3 separate regions of the Homo sapiens genome follow, and regions 1 and 2 are each linked to region 3. The links come from fine-mapping of genetic effects on gene expression. A gene starts in region 3. Each other region holds a variant in brackets. All regions are shown on one strand. Distances are from middle to middle. Region 1 has its middle 31 kb from the start of LPAR3. Region 2 overlaps LPAR3 (lysophosphatidic acid receptor 3). Region 3 holds the start of LPAR3 (lysophosphatidic acid receptor 3).

Region 1 (2,761 bases), 31 kb after region 3:
CGGGGTTTCACTGTGTTAGCCAGGATAGTCTCGATCTCCTGACCTTGTGATCCATGCGCCTCGGCCTCCCAAAGTGCTGGGATTACAGGCGTGAGCCACCACACCCGGCCAGTGCTGGGCCATTTTTACATGAAGGTCCACAGGGACAAGAGGGCGACTGGCTACCCCTAGATCAAAAGGCTGGGCTATTGTGCTTTTCATAAACCCATGATTCCAAGCGTGGTCTTCCACTGGATCAGTGTACCCTTTTTACAATTGTTGGAGTGTAGGTCCTCAGCAGGAGTGGGGGACAGTGCCTCGAATCGCACGAAGAGCTTTTCCTAACTACCCTCTCTCACTCTTTTGCATTCACCACTTTGAGTCAGCAATGGGTTGAGAAGGAAGTGGGCCTGAATTTTATACATTCTGACAAGTTTGGTTAAGGGGGTAGTCCTAGTAGAGGACTGAGGGTCTCACCCAGGGTGAAGGACTGAGGCTTTGTGACAGCTTGTGCACCTCCTGGACCTTTTCTCTTCCATCAGGACTGACAGCTGTGCCCCAGCCATTTAGGCTGCTTCTCCTTGCTGCTCCTCTATGGCTAGGTGTGAGCTTCTTAGGGCTGAACTGATCATTGCCTCCAGGACAGGACTGGATGGGGGACTTTTGCACACTTAAAGTTCTAACTAGAACAAAGTCCACCAGAAGTGTGTGGTGAGTGCATTATAAAATAAAAATCTTCCTGGCTGGCCCAGATGAACAGATTTGTACATTTGTAGACCATGTTAGTAAGACATGTTTTTTGAAGAGCTAATAGTCATTGAGCACTTAGGAGTCACGCCCTATTCTATGCACTTTACGTTTGACTCATTCAATCCTCATAATCCCATTTTATGGATGAGGAAATCTATGCATGGCATGACCTGTCCAAGGAGACTCAGGTAGCAGTAGGAAGAGGACAGCTGAGGCAGACAGGTTGCAGAAGCAAAGTCGTGTCTGCATTATTCCATGGTCCCAT[G/A]GAAACTATTGCAAACATGTTAGAGAATCAAAGGGAAATAACAGCTCAGGAATGAATTCAATACCAGGCTCTGCATAAATTATGTGACTTAAGTGCCAGTCTTGGTTGAGGTTTATCATCACTTAGAGGAAGAAAGTAACTTGTTCAGGGCCTTAAAGTTAGGTTAAGCTGGAATTTTAACTCAAGTCTGTCTAGATGGCTCTTATGCCCACACTCTCTCCTACCAGCTCAAGTGAAAAAGCTTTAAGATGTTGTATATGGTTTTGACTGTGTCACCACAAGCCAAGGAGTTAAATTCAAGGGTTGGAGATCCCAGAATGAAACCAGCAGGCAGAAAGAATGTGTCTCCTAACTTTCACAGGGAACCCTCTAAGTGGAGGCCTATGATAAGAGAGAAAATGATTTATCCCAGATGCATCTATTAGCAGAATTATGAGACAACATTGTTCAATAAAATCCAAATAACAATACAGTTGATAAAGTGACAATTGTTTAACATTATTAAAAAGGGAGAAAACAATGTTTCTATAGATGTGAGCTAACCCTGAAAAACATTTTTCTTTCTAAAACTGTTTTGTCCAGCTGGAGGGAAAATAAATAAAAGAAAACATGAAAGCCAATAGAAGAATAATATGAGCATGAAAACCCATCATTAATCTTCTATTCAAATGGCAGTCACAGCTGCAGAACAAATGAAAGCTTTTTTTTTTTTTTTTTTTTGAGATGGAGTCTCACTTTGTCACCCAGACTAGAGTGCAGTGGCCGGATCTTGGCTCGCTGCAACCTCCGCCTCCCGGATTCAAGCGATTCTCCTGCCTCAGCCTCCTGAGTATCTGGGACTACAGGCGCCTGCCACCACACCCAGCTAATTTTTGTATTTTTAGTAGATACAGGGTTTCACCATGTTAATAGCAATTCTTGGGTTGGGCGTGGTGGCTCACGCCTATAATCCCAACACTTTGGCAGGCCAAGGCGGGCGTACACGAGGTCAGGAGATCAAGACCATCCTGGCCAATATGGTGAAACCCTATCTCTACTAAAAAAATACAAAAAATTAGCCAGGTGTGGCGGTGCATGTCTGTAGTCCCAGCTACTCAGGAGGCTGAGGCAGGGGACTCGCTTGAACCTGGGGGGCAAAGGATGCAGTGAGCCAAGATCATGACACTGCACTCTAGCCTGGCAACAGGGCAAGACTCTGTTTAAAAAAAAAAAAAAAGAGAGAAAGAAAAAAAATAGCAGTTCTTTTCAGAGACAAAACTAAGTATATGACAATATACTCAGAAGTTAACAAGTGGTCCAATTACGTATCTGATTCTTGGGTCAGGCAAATGACCCCAGAACCACCAGTTTAATGGTGTCTTAGTTTAAAAATCAAACATAACTCTTCACATATCTTGTAAAAAAGAAAGTTTAAAATAATTTTAGCAAAGTACTCTGTGTGTAGACATGAGTCATCTACTCTCTTATATACTTTAATGGTATTAACTGCATGATTTTCCCTGCCTATAGTTGGTGCAGGCATATGAAGATGGGGTCAGAGCAAGGAGGGGGAAGGTGACATGAGAAGGAAAATTGGGTAGGGGCTTGTGGGGAGGGCGACTGAGGCCAAGGAGAAAGAGGAAGAGCCCTGGAAGGAGGGTCCTGCTTAATTCAAATTCTCCTCTTCACCAATAACTTTAAATAGTTGGCCACTGAGATAGCTCAGGTATGAAATAAGTCTATGCATGAAGTGATCTTCATCTCTCAAGCTATCATCATAAATATTTA
Region 2 (2,761 bases), 27 kb before region 3:
GAAAAAAGAAAAAAAAATGAAAAGCTGAAGTCCTTATAACCACATGACCCTACATTATCTGAGTAGCCCATCCCCTACCCCACCAGCTCCCTGACCTCATCTTCTCCTACTCCCTCTGCTCGATCCATGCAGCCATAGTGGCTTCCTGGCTGGTCAGGGCTCCTGTGCTTACCGCTTCTCCCACCTGGAACACCCTTCCCCAGACACCAGTATGGTTCACTCCCTGACTGCCTTCACACCTCTGCTCAAAAGTCATCTTCCAGGCATCCCTCACAACACTTTTTTAAAGTGCAAACGATACCTGCTTAGCTTAGCACTCTCCAGCTCCCTTCCCTGCTTTATTTTTCCTTCCTTCCCTGATTGATTTTTCCACAGGAGACTCATCTTATTTCACTTAATTTGTTTACCCCCATTAGAATACTTATTTTATCTTTCCTTATTAGAGTGTAAGCTCCAGGTGGGTGGCGATTTATGTCCGTTCTTGTTCACTGCTGCATTCTTACTGCCTAGTAAGTGCCTGGTACACCACAGATGCTCCGTAAAGATTTGCTGAATGAATGGGAATGATGGCTTGCTTGGGTCCTCTTACCTACCTAAGACAGTCATCACCGTCTTCATTAGCTTCATGGGTGTCCTCCGGCGGCTGATGGACCCACTTGTATGCGGAGACAAGACGTTGGTTTTCCTCTTGACGTACACGTAGATCCGCAGGTACACCACAACCATGATGAGGAAGGCCATGAGGTTGGACACTGTCCAGAAAACAAGGTAACTCCTGCTGTAAATGGGGGCCAGGGAAGAGCAGGCAGAGATGTTGCAGAGGCAATTCCAGCCCAGTGTGGGGACCGCCCCCATAAAAATGGCGATGGCCCAGACAAGCAAAATGAGCAGTGTCACCCTCTTTTTGGTCAGGTTGCTATGGACCCGCATCCTCATGATTGACATGTGCCTCTCCACGGCGATAACCAGCAAGTTGGTGAGGGAAGCAGTCAAGCTACTGTCCAGAAGCCCCTGACGGAGAAACCAGCGGTTGACAGTCAAAGTTTTTGAAACTGGGCCTGTGTTAAACATCAGGAATACATAGGCAATTCCAGCGAAGAAATCGGCAGCAGCTAAATTAGCCAACAGGTAGTAGAAGGGGAAATGAAATTTTCTGTTTTTGATCACTGCCGCGATGACCAGAGAATTAGAAAAAAAAATAAACAGGCAGAAAAACGTCCCAACACACAAAACAATCACAAGCTTTGTTCCTGTCCAGTCATCGACAGTATCAGTGTTGCTCCTATTATAAAAAAAGTCCATGTGCTTGTCATAGTGACACTCATTCATTGTGGAGAAGTGAACATCCTAGAAAGAAATTTAAAGAAGAAACAAATATCATTTGTAAAATCAGTCACTAAGCCATCAATTGCTGTTTCTAAGCCCGTTCTGGCTAACTCCCAT[C/G]AAGGGAGTTGAAGACCTGAAGTGTCAGGTCTCAGTGCAAATGTCCTTTGGTCCAGGACATAGCCCCTGACCTCCTACCACAGCATTTAGCGCACATTTTAATTGTTTGTTTCCCAGGCTAGGCCGCTCAGGTTAGGAGGGTGTATCTCTATTTTGTTCACCATTACAACCCTAGGATTCAGTTGCTCTGTCTGCCTCATGGTGGGTAATTATTGGTAGGTTGGCTGGCTGGCTGAATGAATGAATGAATTCTCATGGAGGCATCAACAGGGCAAATGTGCTGAGCCCTGCAATATCCACTCTGCACTGGTAACACAATGACAACACATTATGTTAATGCCTCCTCCTGGCTCCCAGTTCATTAGTTATTTATGGATATGTTCATTAATCAACGGCAGGTTGGTAATTTCAGGTACATTCTTCCCAAGATAATAGGAGTTGAATTACCATTCACATAACCAAACAGATACCCCAAGAGACCAGTTTTCTATGACTTCTGATTCCACTCCTGATCCTCCTTTTGCCATCTTTTGGTTTCAACAAACAACTCTGATATTCACATATTAGGTATATGATGCAGGGATGGAGACTTTGGTCCCAATATCTCCCTTCCTTACCTTTTGTTCACTTCTTCCTTATAGTCTCCTAACCCAAACTGTACCAATGTGAACCTGCTCACTGGATTTTCCAGCATTCCTCAACACGGCAGGTGGAGGAGGATCGGGCTTCCACAGGCAAGACTGAGATTTGGAATTGGGGCAGATCTCCAACTCAATGTGGATGTGAGAACATATCTATTAAGTGAGGGCATGTTCTTCAGACACTTGTCTGAAAGAAGACCCCAAACTGGGATATCAGGCAGACAGGGAAGACACTAATCCTCTCAGTAAAAGATCTCTTGAATCCCAAAAGCGAGGGATCTTGGCCAAGGAAGGGCTGGGCAGAAGCCCCACGGATGCCCATCTGTCTACACGTGGTGGGGAAAACCAAGTGTTCTGCCTCACAGTGGTCTGGCCACAGCCATGAACGGTCCTACGGAAGAAGATTGGGCTTAGGGTCAGGGTTCTAGCTTCTTGGAAGAATGACCATCTGCTCCCTCACTGAGAATGAGGCTGCAGCTTATTCCCTGGAGAACCAGAGATTCAGTCGGCAGAGGGACTGAGCAGCCCTCTGGGAGCTGTGACAGTAAAAGCTCAGTAAAAGCCCCCAGATTTTAAAGTTCCTGAAAATTCTGAAATCTAATACCACAACCAGAATCAAGAAGACCAGATAACTATTAAGTAGTACAAAATAGAAATGTATCTCAGTCTTTTTTTTA
Region 3 (2,761 bases):
ATCAATGGAAAATCCAGCAACTCTTCTCAGCGATACAAAAGTCCATGCATTAATGAAACGTTGTGCGGTACATGGAATTTGTAAAGAGGAGATTGATTGTCTGTCTGTAATTGACATTTACTTTATTCTCTGATACAGACTAAGTTGGAACCGTGAGAAAGCCCTTTATTTCTAAACGGCATCTCAAGACCAGGTAATGCTACTTTCGGAGGAAAAGGAGGAAGAAAAGCGTTGTAATGACAATAACAAATTACGGGGGAAACATTTCGTGGAAATTACTCAGTTTAAAAAACTGACCTAGCCGGGCGCAGTGGCTCACACCTGTAATCCCAGCACTTTGGGATGCTGAGGAGGGTGGATCACGAGGTCAAGCGTTCGAGATCAGCCTGGCCAACACAGTGGAACCCCGTCTCTACTAAAAATACAAAAAATTAGCCTAGCGTGGTGGTGGGCGCCTGCAATCCCAGCTACTAGGGAGGCTGAGGCAGGAGAATCGCTCGAACCTGGGAGGCGGAGGTTGCAGTGAGCCGAGATCGCGCCACTGCACTCCAGCCCGGATGATAGTGCGAGACTGTGTCTCAAAAATAAATAAATAAATAAATAAATAAATAAATAAATAAATAAATAAAAACTAACCTACAAATGCTTTTCAGGGCCATTTTAATGATTACCTTAATAAGACTAAATTGTTTCCAATATTCACAGTCACTCCTCAAATTACATGCGTGCGGAATTTCTAAGCAATTTTGTGTAGCTGCAACTTGTTGAGGGAAAGCAATAAAGTAACTCTGCTACAGAACAAAAGCACTTTTGTCTCGTGGTGGTGAGGGGGCATACCCTGAACAAACAACCCCGACAGTGTTGCTAGTTACTAGTTCCCGAATCTCTAGAAGCCTGCACATGGTTCAAGCTGTTCCCCAGCGGACACAGCACAGTACCAGATGTAACTGGAGGCTGAAAAATGTTATATCCCTAGGCTTCACGAGAGAACCCCAGTTTCCTAATCACCATCGATGGCAATGAGACTGAGTTTGGAAAGAACCACGTGTGCAAAGGCAGACGCAACCCGTGCGGCGCTCTCCTGGCCTCTGCGCCCAGCCCGCCAGCCCTCAGCAGCGGACGCAACGCCGATTTTGCATCTAGATTGCTTTTTGCTCCTAGCGGGGAAAAAGGTGGGAAAAGAGCAAGTTGTGCCATACACCCGCCGGGAGAGTCTTGTCCCGGGGTTTGGAGTGGGTCTGGAGCCCAGGCTTGCACGCCAGGCAACCCCGAAAAGCCGCAGGCTAGAGCCCTGCAGGCGCCGCTGCGCCCCGGCCTCCCCACGACGCACGCCCTGGTGACTGCGGCTCGGGGTACCCTCCCTGCGCCCGGACCCTCACTCACCGCTCACGTTCACCCGCGCCGCCGAGCCCGGGAGCGGGGGCCCCTGCGGCTGCCGCATGCCCTCGGGGTCGAGCGCGACGGGGCGACCGGGCGCCGGGCTCCAGCCGGGCGCGGAGAAGCAGCGGAGGACGCGGCGGGCGGGCGGAGCGCCTCCTCTCCAGCGACCCCTGCGACGCGTCCAGAGCCAAAGGAAAGTTTGGCGGTGCGAGGGAGGGACCTAGGGACAGCGGCCCCTCCCTGCCCCGCCCCGCCCCGCCGGGTGCGTTCGACGTTCCCACTGGAGAGCGTCCCCAACCTGCAAGGCCGCGAGCTGCGCTCAAAGGGGCCCGTGCGAGCCGCGGGAGGGCAGCGCTCTTGCAGACGCGTTCCTGCCTGGGATCGTCCCCAGGTGGGTGGTCGGCCGGCCCCGAGAGGGAAAAGCGCCCACTAAAGGACCGCTAGTACCCACAAGCCTCACGGAGCCATACCTCGGAGCTCCGTATTAGAACGCAGTCCCTCTGCCCCTCTGTCCTCAGAGATTTGTTTGAAGTGGCTGCGGGAAGTGCAGCCCACACCCACCACCCCCGTGGGAGGCAGGCTCTACTCCAAGCCCGACCTAACGCTGGAAACCTCAACCCCAAAGCTACCCGAGGGTGCGGACAGCCCCCAGAGGCAACCAACAATATTTAAGGTTCTTGTAAGAGGTTTCTTGGCCTCCTGGGGCAAATAGTCCTGGATACTTTGTTTTTCAAAGCTGAAATATAAAACCTCCACTGACCCACCTTTAGTAAAGAAGAAAGATGCAAAGTAAAACAAATGTCATGAAGGCATTGTTCTCTCTGAATTCTGCAAAGCAATAACGAAGTCACAGAAATGTTCAAAGTTGTGCTTTCCTGGTGACCTTACAAAAAGGAAATACTGTGAGGTGAAGTCCTTCCCACTCAGACTTCAGGCCCTTAGGAAGCAATGAGAGTTGTGTGCCCAGATGTCTTCCTGTGACCCTTTGCCATCCATCCATCCGTTCATTCATTCATCTTGCATTCACCATTAATACTGCGCCCTTCTGTGTGCCAGCTAGGAACCTCATCCTTGCAAACAACCTGTTAGATAATCTGTCCCCTACCATCAAAGAGATTCTGTTTTCTCTGCAGAGGATGTTTTAATAAGGTTACGTCCCTTACTCCGTGGGTCTTATCCTATAGACCATAATAGCCTAATGTGCCTCAAACCTCCCCGGGGCTACAGCTAAGTTTTCATCAGCATGTGAAAATTATTGTTTCATCTAAGTGTTCAGAAAATTATTGCGGTGTCTTGCAGTTGAACTGTGTAGAGAGAAGTACAACTTGCGAAGCTAGGGCTAAAGAAAGATCATGTGTTTACTTTTACAAGCAGAAGCTTT

Evidence for each region. PIP is the estimated chance that this variant, and not a neighbour inherited with it, causes the effect.
Region 1: its variant is fine-mapped to the expression of LPAR3 in whole blood (TOPMed, PIP 0.95).
Region 2: its variant is fine-mapped to the expression of LPAR3 in whole blood (INTERVAL, PIP 0.97).

Annotation. Positions count from the first base shown.
Region 1 is chr1:84,922,665-84,925,425 of GRCh38, forward strand. No RefSeq gene overlaps it. Among named protein-coding and RNA genes, the nearest start is that of LPAR3, 31 kb to the left of the region's middle. The variant G/A (reference allele first, on the strand shown) is at 995.
Region 2 is chr1:84,864,792-84,867,552 of GRCh38, forward strand. LPAR3 (lysophosphatidic acid receptor 3) reads right to left here. Exons shown (of 3, transcript NM_012152.3): 2 at 594-1,347. The coding sequence starts at 1,329. Among named protein-coding and RNA genes, the nearest start is that of LPAR3, 27 kb to the right of the region's middle. The variant C/G (reference allele first, on the strand shown) is at 1,444.
Region 3 is chr1:84,891,633-84,894,393 of GRCh38, forward strand. It overlaps LPAR3 (lysophosphatidic acid receptor 3), which reads right to left and starts at 1,574. Exons shown (of 3, transcript NM_012152.3): 1 at 1,384-1,574.